2 separate regions of the Homo sapiens genome follow, and region 2 is linked to region 1. Evidence: fine-mapped expression QTL. Tissue or cell type: whole blood. Region 1 holds a variant in brackets; the other region holds the start of a gene. All regions are shown on one strand. Distances are from middle to middle.

Region 1 (5,376 bases):
TAACCTTTTACTTTTCTTATTAACTGATCTAATATATGACCATTCAAAATAATAATAGCAAGAAGGAATTGCATGATTATAGCATGGAAATGTGAAATCAATGAAAGCCGTTTCTTTGCTTTAGAAAGCAGTAGAAAGGAGTTGCAAATACTGTTTTTTTGTTTGTTTGTTTTTGTTTTTTGTTTTTTAGACAGAGTCTCACTCTGTCATCCAGGCTGGAGTACAACGGTGCAATCCCAACTTGGGATGCCTCCCGAGTAGCAGGGATTACAGGTGCCTGGCACCGTGCCTGGCTAATTTTTGTATTTTAGTAGAGACGAGGTTTCACTATGTCAGCCAGGCTGGTCTTGAACTCCTGACCTCACATGATCTGCTCACCTTGACGTCCCAAAGTGCTGGGATTATAAGCATGGGCCACCGTGCCTGGCCAGCAAATACTGTTATAAAGTATCTGTACTATCCATGAAGGACCTGTACTACTCATGAAGCAGTATGGTGTTATTTGAAAGTGGACTTGGTTATGAATGTATATTGCAATTTTTTTTTTTTTTTTCTGAGATGGAGTCTCGCTCTGTTGCCCAGGCTGGAGTGTAGTGGCACAATCTCGGCTCATTGCAACCTCCGCCTCCCAGGTTCAAGCAATTCTCCTGCCTCAGCCTCTTAAGTAGCTGGGACTACAGGCACCCGCCACCATGCCTGGCTAATTTTTGTATTTTTGGTAGAGACGGGGTTTCACCATGTTGGCCAGGCTGGTCTCAAATTCCTGACCTCAGGTGATCCACCTGCTTTGGCCTCCCAAAGTGGTGGGATTACAGGCGTGAGCCACCGTGCCTGGCCAGCAATTTTTTTTTTTTTTTTTTTTGAGACTGAGTCTCGCTCTGTTGCCCAGTCTGGAGTGCAGTGGCGCTATGTCAGCTCACTGCAAGCTCTGCCTCCCAGGTTCCCGCCATTCTCCTGCCTCAGCCTCCCAAGTAGCTGGGACCACAGGCACCTGCCACCACGCCTGGCTAATTTTTTGTATTTTTAGTAGAGACGAGGTTTCACCATGTTAGCCAGGATGGTCTTGATCTCCTGACCTCGTGATCCACCCGCCTCGGCCTCCCAAAGTGCTGGGATTACAGGCGTGAGCCACCATGCCCAGCCAGCAATTTTTTAAAGTAGTGAAAAATTCACATGGTAAGAGAGGAGAGAAAATGAGTTATTGCTCCAAGCACAGATGACAACTCCTGGAAGACTGGGCCCAAGTTCTGGAGGGAAGATGATCCTACTTGGCATCACTTCGTCTTCCTACCTCTGTGGACAGCCAATCCCACCCAGATGGGACTGTGTACAGGCTTCTTCCTTAGCCTGCAACAGTGGGAACTGATGGTGCTGTGATGGGTCCACAAGGAGACATGTGCAATGGAGTTGATGACAATGTTGTTTAGGGTGATGAGGAGTTAGAGGCAAATCTGATGTCCATCCCTGGAGCTCCGTGTAGTCCACGTGTGATGGGTGCACTCCATGGAGTACTCTGCAACAGTTAGCATTGAGGGATTCTCTGGAGAAAGCTGAGGTCCGGAGGAGGGATGTGGATCTCTGAAGGTCTCTGAGCAACAGTCAGTGGCAGGGCCAGGACTTCAGCCTGTGCATTTTGACTCCTGGTTTGACGTCCTTTCCTCTTTATCACAGCAGCCTCCAGTGCTTTATTTACTTTTGGATTTTCACCTTTTGGAGTTATCCACATCATGACTTCCTCCTAATTAATGTGCAGGGGTCCTAAGAAACCAGGATGGCACAGGAAAGAAACAGACTTTAGCTCCACTTTATTAGACAGATATTATTATTAGAAAAAAGGATCAACTAAGACTCTATCATCTTTCCAGCTAATGGAAGGTGGCTAACTCGTTAAGTGGAATGACTCTGTGTCAGCTTGACGAGCAAGTTTTTTGGTAGTGAAACATTTGTCTAGGCCAAAACAGGTAGTAAGATCTTCTATGTTGAAAATTAATTTTGTAAACAGGAAGAGAGAAATGTAGAAAACAGGATGAATGTGGCTAGTAGAGAACAGACGTGGGTGCTGGGCTAAGGAGAGTTATGTTCCCCATTTGCAGCTCTCAGAGGGTGCAGGTGGAGTTGAACTGAGCTGAAACAAAAGCGTTCCCAAGTGCGCCTAAGTGGTTTTTTTTGTT[G/T]TTGTTGTTGTTGTTTGTTTGTTTTGAGACGGAGTCTCACTCTGTCGCCTAGGCTGGAGTGCAGTGGCGAGATCTTGGCTTACTGCAACCTCTGCCTCCCGGATTCAAGAAATTCTCGTGCCTCAGCCCAGCAAGTAGCTGGGATTACAGGCGCCCACCACCACGCCCGGCTAATTTTTGTATTTTTAGTAGAGACAGGGTTTCACCATGTTGGCCAGACTGGTCTTCAACTCCTGATCTCAAGTGATCCGTCTGCCTAGGCCTCCCAAAGTGCTGGGATTACAAGTGTGAGCCACCGCTCCTGGCAGTGCCTGACTATTTTCATCCTGTAAAGTTATGGTTGTGAATTCTTGCGCTTAACCCTGAGCCCTCCCAGTCATGAAAATCCATTTTCAGATGGTTACTGTGGACACTGCAGCAATCTAGTTATTATGGACACCATAGGAACTTAGTTTAGAAACAAAATTTCAATAAAGAATAACTCCTACAGCCTTTAAAACCCAACCCTCAGCTGGGCGCAGTGGCTCACGCTTGTAATCCCAGCACTTTGGGAGGCCGAGGCAGGCAGATCACGAGGTCAAGAGATCGAGACCATCCTGGCCAACATGGTGAAATCCCGTCTCTACTAAAAATACAAAAATTAGGTGGGCGTGGTGGCATGTGCCTGTGGTCTCAGCTACTCGGGAGGCTGAGGCAGGAGAATCGCTTGAACCCGGGAGGGGGAGGTTGCAGTGAGCCAAAATCACGCCACTGTACTCCAGCCTGGTGACAGAGCAAGACTTTGTCTCAAAAAACAAAACAAAACAAAAACCCAACCCTCAAGAAAGTAAAGATAGGCCAGGCTCAGTGGCTCAAGCCTGTAATCCCAGCACTCTAGGAGGCCGAGGCAGGCAGATGGCTTGAGCTCAGGAGTTCAAGACCAGCCTGGACAACATGGTGAAACCCCATCTCTACCAAAAATACAAAAATTAGCCTGTAGTGGTGTGTGCCTGTAGTCCCAGCTACTTTTAAGCCTGGGAGGTTGAGGCCTCAGTGATCCGTGATCGTGTTACTACAGACAGCCTGAGCAACAATGAGATCTTGTCTCAAAAGAAAAAAAAAAAAAAAAGAAAGTAGACAACCCATGGAATGGGAGAAAATATTTGCCAATCGTATACCTGGTAAAGGATTTGTGCCTAGAACATACAAAGAACTCTAGATCTCAACAACATAAAGAAAAATAACACCCCCCAAATGGGCAAAAGATCTCAATAGACATTTCTCCAAAGAATAGACAAATGGCCAATAAGCATACAAAAATATTCCACATAGTCATCAGGGAAATGCAAATCAAAACCGTAGTGAGAAACCACTTTATTTTCATTTGTTTAAATTTATTTTTATTTTTGCTTTTGAGATGGAGTCTTGCTCCCTCGCCCAGGCTGGAGTGCAGTGACGCAATCTTGGCTCACTGCAACCTCTGCCTCCTAGGTTCAGCAGTTCTCCTGTCTCAGCCTCCCAAGTAGATGGGATTACAGGTGCCTGCCACCATGTCTGGCTAATTTTTGTATTTTTAGTAGACATGGGGTTTCACCATGTTGGCCAGGCTGGTCTTAAACTCCTGACCTCAAGTGATCTGCCCAACTTGACCTCCTAAAGTGCTGGGATTACAGGCGTGAGCCACCACGTCCAGCAGAGAAACCTCTTTATACCCAAAAGGATGGCTACAATCACAAAGACAGATAACAACAAGTGTTGACGAGGATGTGGAGAAAATAGAACTGTCATACACTCCTAGTGGGAATGTAACATGGTGCAGCTACTTAGGAAAACAGTCTGAGAGTTCTTCAAAGATTAAACACAGTTATATGACACAGAAATTCCACTCCTAGCTTTATACTCAAGAGAAATGGAGACATATGACTGTACAAAAACTCATACCAAAATGTTTATAACAGCATTATTCATAAAAGCCAGAAGGTGGAAACAACCCAAACGTCTATCAATTGATGAACATGAATAAAATGTGGTATATTCATAGATGGAGTATTGTTTGCCTAAATAAGGAATAAAGTACTTTTACGTCACAAACTGGATAAACCTTGAAAACATTATGCTAAGTGAAAGTCAGTCCCGCATATTGTATAATTTCATTTATATCAAATGACTAGAAGAGACCAATCAACAGAGATTGAAAGTAGCAGTTGCCAGGGGCTGGGGCTGAGGTGATAATAGGAAGTCAACGCTAATGCATTTGAAGTTTCTTTTTGAGATTATAAAAAAATGGGCCGGGCACAGTGGCTCACGCCTGTAATCCCAGGGCTTTGGGACATTGAGGCAGGCAGATCACGAGGTCAGGAGTTCAAGACCAGCCTGGCCAATATGGTGAAACCCCTGTCTCTACTAAAAATACAAAAATTAGCTGGCCATGGTGGCACGCACCTGTAGTCCCAGCTACTTGGGAGGCTAAGGCAGGAGAGCCACTTGAACCTGGGAGGCAGAGGTTGTGGTGAGCTGAGATCACGCCACTCCAGCCCGGGCAACAGAGCGAGACTCTGTCTCAAAAAAAAAAGTAAAAATGATTGTGATAATGGTTGCGCAACTCCAAATATACCAAAATCCTTTGTACACTTAAATGAGTGAATTGTATGGTATGTAAATTATACCTCAATAAAGCTATCATTAATAAAAGCCAAAACAAAACCTCAGCCCTGCCTAATCACCTTGCCATCCTGTACAACCTGAGTTCTTAGCTTCATGTGCTGTTTTCACAAATTTTTTTTTACTTCTGACTCTATCCTTATTCTCATCTCCCAAACCTCAATTTATATTCCATGAACATGGAATTTAAAATCTAAATAGAAGGCTGGGCACAGTGGCTCATGCCTGTAATCCTAGCTACTTGGGAGGCTGAGGCACAAGAATTGCTTGAACCCGGGAGGCGGAGGTTGCAGTGAGCCGAGATCACACCACTGCACTCCAGCCTGGGCAACAGAGCGAGAACCTGTCTCAAAAATAAATAAATAAAAAATAAAATAAAATCTAAATAGAGGCTGCACTGAGGATTAGCTTTTCATTATTTATAGGTGAAAGAAAATTGTAGGGTGTTATCTGAATTGCTTGGAAAATTTCAAACACTCTGATAATATTTTAGAACCTAATAACAACCATGTTTGTTATGTGCTCCCATAGCAAAAGTATTTACTCCCAATCAGTATAAAACTTA
Region 2 (5,376 bases), 60 kb before region 1:
GTGGTGGCGGGCGCCTGTAGTCCCAGCTACTCAGGAGGCTGAGGCAGGAGAATGGCGTGAATTCGGGAGGCGGAGCTTGCAGTGAGCCGAGATCGCGCCACTGCCCTCCAGCCTGGGCAACAGAGCAAGACTCGGTCTCAAAAAAAAAAAAAAAACAACCTCTAACACCATCTCCGAAGACAGACATGTAAATACCTATTGAAGACATGAATAAATAAATAACATCAAACAGTTCTTTTAAATAATATCTTGATTCAGGTCGGGCACGGTGGCTCACACCTGTAATCCCAGCTGTGTGGGAGGCCGAGGCCGGTGAATCACCTGAAGTCAGGAGTTGTAGACCAGCCCGGCCAACATGGTGAAACCCCGTCTCTACTAAAAAATACAAAAAAAATAGCTAGGCTTGGTGGCGGGTGCCTGTAATCCCAGCTACTCAGGAGGCTGAGGCAGGAGAATCCCTTGAACCTGGGAGGCGGAGGTTGCAGTGAGCCAAGATTGGGCCATTGCACTCCAGCCTGAGCGACAAGAGCGAAACTCTGCCTCAAAAAAATTATTAAATAAAATTATGACTTGATTCAAAGAGTTAAGTGAAAAATGGCAATGCCTCAATCAGTTATATAATTGGGCTGGTCCCGTTACCTTACAGACTAGAGCCAGTTCGTTTCATCATTAGCTGGTGTGTTATTTTCCCCCTCAAATTCTATCACATATACACAATACACAGTGGGAGAAACTGGCAGATTAATCTGTGAGAGGAAAAGCTGAGTACTGTGGCTATTCACTAAGTCTTCATCAACATACCACATAAATCCAAACTGCGGCCCACCAAAAAGGCCCTCGACCATTAGGAAAATCATACTCTAATATATGCAAATACAAGACACATATTGACTTAATTAGAACTGTTTTTCCACATGTACGTAAAGGTAACATGCACATATACGTGTCTATTTGTATATACATGCACACATAGCCATCTCCGACACTGGGGTCATACTTTTTCCACTTGTTTTTATGTTTCTGAGTATAACAGACTACGTGGAATTAAATCAATGCTTTGAATTAAGAGCTGTGATTAAAACACAGTACTTATTCAGAATCCTAAACATTACAGTTCTCCTTACCACTGGGTAAACTTCCATGGTTCACCAAAGGAAATCTCAAATTTAAGGTTGTAATTCACTTGAAAGCTAGCACTAATTTTTTTAAAAGCAACCAAAACTACCAAAAATCCAGTCCATTTTAACATCTTATGAATTCAATATCCAATTTTTACCGACCAATTAGTTCTTCAACTCTTTAGGAAGTGCTTTCCCCTTACTCTAATGGTTTTTTCTTTTTTTTTTTTTTTTAAGGTATTTTTAAGTCACTATCCACATTTTGTGAAACTGAAGGACCAAGGCCAACGAGAAGGGGAAAAAAGTGAGCGTGCTGCGACGTACCCCTCAAAGGAAACAACCAAAAATGTTTCTGGATTTTATTAAAGATAATGCTGGATTCTCGTTCCCCACAGTACCAAAGATGCCACACAGAGTATTCTTGCTCAAAAGAGCGAAGCAATTAATCTAGAGGAAGAGATAACGATGTCGAACGCTGGTAAATCAAAAAAATTAGGAGAGAGGAGTGGAAAAGGAGAAGACGCGGCGGCGCTGTGCGGTCTCGGAGCAGCTCTCCAGGAAAGGGTTCTTGGGCAGCGGCCCCCCTGCTCGGGTGAGCGGCCAGGCTGGAGGTGGCCGCCACGGGCGCGTTTTCCACTCCGACCGGCTCCCGCGCACACGCCCACCGCCCTGCGCAGCCCGCGACCCCGGCGCCCGCAGCGCACCCAAGTCACGCTCAACCCGAGCGGAAAGTTTCGAATCCAAACCCGAGAGCCGAAACGCACAGGTCTCGGGGCTGAACTCGCGCCAGGAACACGCCCGAGGCAAACCACTTGACAACCAGCTTAGGTTCTCAGCAGAAAGGCCGACAGGCGGGGGCCGGGGAGGAAGGGGAGGCGAGACACACGCCCTCCCGCACACTCGGCCCCTCCGCCTCCTCGGCCCGCGGCTCAGGTGGGAGCAACGCAGCCGCTGCACTCCCGCAGCGGGCGGGCCGGAGCCCAGCGGCAGACGCCGGGGCCCCTTCCGGAAAGGGCCGCGACCCCCGGGCCAGCTCGCGGGCAAGGGACGGGTGCGCACGCCCTGCCCGGCGCCTTTCCGCCGGCCTCCCGCCCGCCGGCCGGTGGCGACCCGGGGCGGGAGGTCGCGGGGTCGAGGCTCCGTGATGCTAGGGAACCGGCCGCGGCCCGCGCGCCCCTCCCCCGCCGCCGCCCCTCCCCCCGGGCCGCCCGCCGGGGGCAGGAGCCGAGCGCCAGCGTCCCGGGGGACCAGCCCGCCCGCCGGCCCGGGGACCCGGACAACTTTCCCCTGCGCGGCCGCGGGCGCCCCCGACGGGGCGGGGGTGGGGAACGGGGACAGGCGCAGCGTGGACTCACTTTTTCGGATGTTTCTCTCTTTTCGGCCTCCGCTTTCGGGCCTGAATGGCCAGCACTGGGGAAGAGAAGACACACATTAACGGTCGGGCCGCCCGCCCGGGCTGGCCGCGTGGCGGGGAGAGGGCGCGCCGCGGGCCACTCACCTTTCCGGGAGCTCATTCCGACGCGGCGGAAGCGGGGCGGGGGGCTTCGCGACGGCGACGCGGGCGCCGAGACGAGCTGGGCTGCAGCCTCCACTCGCTCCGCCGGCCGGGAGGAGACGAGAACCGCGCCTGCGCCGCCGCCGCCGCCGCCGCTCCAGCAGGGACCCAGCAAGACCCGCCCCCGTCCGGCCCCGCCCCCGCCCCGCCCCCACCCGCCGGCCCCGGGGGTCGGGACCCCAGCGCCGCGCGCCCAGCGCCCCGCGCCCCCGCCCCACCCACCTGTGCAGAAGTGGCCGCCGCCCATGGCCGCGCTGGCCCTCGGCCTCCCCCACCCCAGCCCGCGGCCCGGGCCTCCGCCTCCTGCGATCCTGCGGCTGGCCCAGGCCGCCCGCCTCTCCCGGGCACCGGACCCGCGGGACCCTCCCTCCCCGCCGCGGCCTCTCCCCTCCGCACCCCGGCCGGTCGCGCCGCCCGCTGCTCCATGCGCCCGTCCTTGGCCGGCGCCTCCGCGGGTCTCGCACCACCTCTCTTCCCGCGGCCTCTTCTCTCCCTTTGCTCCTCTACATCCTTGCAACCCCATGAGCGCCGCTTCCTCCTCTCCGGCAGGCGTGGAAAGGGCACACGACCAAAAGCTGGGAAACCTGGGTCCGCGATTAGCGGTGTGACCTTGGAGAAGTCATTTTCTCTCCCACCTCTAAGTGCCCTCCAGGATTGCATGAGTTTAATGAAGGAAAAGATACAGATAGCATTCAAGGTAGGACAAAGGTTTTGCACATGAATTGAAACTCGCTTCCGTAAACACCAGGTGTATAACAATTCAAAACAACAATCACACCAAGTAGTTATTTTCTGCATCCTACAATGAGGAAACTGAGTCCCAACGAGGTTAAAAAGTTTAACCAGCCAGGATCGAAATTCAGGCCTGGCCGTCGACAAACCACCTTATCAGGCTGCCTACAAAAGATGTGAATCAAGTTGATAGTGACACAAAAAGATAACTGCAATGTTCTCTTATTTATGTAAATAATTACAATAGTTTTTGAAAGATACGCATTCTGACTATTAACTCCCTCATTGGTCACACAACTGTATCTTTGACAAGGTGGCTTACACTAAGGATGATAAATCAGAACGGGAAACTCTGCTTGGATTTTGAAGAGTCCTTAACTTTTTATATTCAAAAAAATATCAAACCCTATAGAAAAGTTACAAGGAAAATACAATTAACAGCCAAATTAACCCATATTCACCAATTTTTAACATTCTGCCACATTTGCTATCTATGTGTCTGTGTGTATGGTTTATTTTGCTGAATCACTTGAGTTTTTGTAGACACTGTTACCCTTTATCCCTAAATATTTCAGTACATATCTACTAAGAATAAAGATAATCTCCCACATAATCAGAATTCCATGATCACTCCAAGAAACTTTCATACTAATACAATGTAATCATCTGTAACATACAGGCCATATATATTCAATTTTGCAAAATATCCCAGTAATATCCCTTGTCGCTGATTTTCTTTTTTTCCCAATTAGTCTACCATTAAGGATCATCCGTTGCATTTAATTGTCATGTCTTTTTAAACACCTTTAGTCTAGAATCATTCTTGGTTTTGTGTTTTGGTTTTCTTTCTATTTATTTATTTATTTTGAAATGGAGTCTCACTCTATCACCCAGGCTGGAGTGCAGTGGCGCAATCTCAGCTCACTGCAACCTCAGCCTCCCGGGTCCAAGCCATTCTCCTGCCTCAGTCTCCCGAGTAGCTGGGATTACAGGCATACACCACCACATCTAGTTAATTTTTGTTTTTGTTTTTTTTTTTTTTTTTTTTTTTTTAGTAGAGACAGGGTTTCACCCTATTGGCCAGGCTGGTCTCGAACTCCTGACCTCGGGTCATCCACCCACCTCAACCTCCCAAAGTGCTAGGATTACAGGCCTGAGCCTCGGCACCCAGCCTTTTTTTGTTTTGTTTTGTTTTGTTGTTTATAACATTGACTTTTTTGAAGAATCCAGTTCCACCATTTTGCAGAATGTTCCCTGTTTTGGATTTGTCTGTTTCCCTATGATTAGATTCAAGTTAAACAATTTTGTTGGCTATACTATAGATGATGTTGTATTCATCTTAGTGCATCAAAATATGATGTCAGTTTGTTCCATTACTGGTGATGTTACAGTTAATTATTTCTCCAAGATACAGGTACCTTTTCCCTCTGTATTTAAGAAGTCTGTATGAAAAATGAGCAAAGGATTTGAATGGACATTTCTCCAAAGACATGCAAATGACCAAACTAGCATGTGACAAGAGAATTAACATCATTAGTTGTTAGGAAAATACAAAGCAAAACTATAATGAGCTACTACTTCACACCTACTAGGATGACTATAAAATTTATTTATTTATTTATTTATTTATTTATTTATTTATTGAGATGGAATTTCGCTCTTGTTGCCCAGGCTGGAGTGCAATGGCACGATCTCAGCTCTTCGCAACCTCTGCCTCCCAGGTTCAAGTGATTCTCCTGCCTCAACCCTCCGAGTAGCTGGGATTACAGGCATGTGCTACCACGCCTGGCTAATTTTGTATTTTTAGTAGATCTGGGGTTTCTCCATGTTGGTCAGGATGGTATCGAACTCCCAACCTCAGGTGATCCACCTTCCTTGGCTTCCCAAAGTGCTGGGATTACAGGCATGAGCCACTGCGCCCGGCTAAAAATTTTTGTAATGGAAAATAAGGCCAAACGTGATGTCTCACAA

Evidence for each region. PIP is the estimated chance that this variant, and not a neighbour inherited with it, causes the effect.
Region 2: SRPK2 starts here. The variant in region 1 is fine-mapped to the expression of SRPK2 in whole blood (INTERVAL, PIP above 0.99).

What each region holds. Positions count from the first base shown.
Region 1 is chr7:105,446,324-105,451,699 of GRCh38, forward strand. No RefSeq gene overlaps it. Among named protein-coding and RNA genes, the nearest start is that of SRPK2, 60 kb to the left of the region's middle. RefSeq lists an enhancer at 1,846-1,965. The variant G/T (reference allele first, on the strand shown) is at 2,172.
Region 2 is chr7:105,386,175-105,391,550 of GRCh38, forward strand. SRPK2 (SRSF protein kinase 2) reads right to left here and starts at 2,747. Exons shown (of 16, transcript NM_182692.3): 1 at 2,617-2,747; 2 at 2,474-2,528. The coding sequence starts at 2,632. RefSeq lists silencers at 1,898-1,997, 2,098-2,217, 2,558-2,687, 2,718-2,787, 2,798-2,847 and 1 more.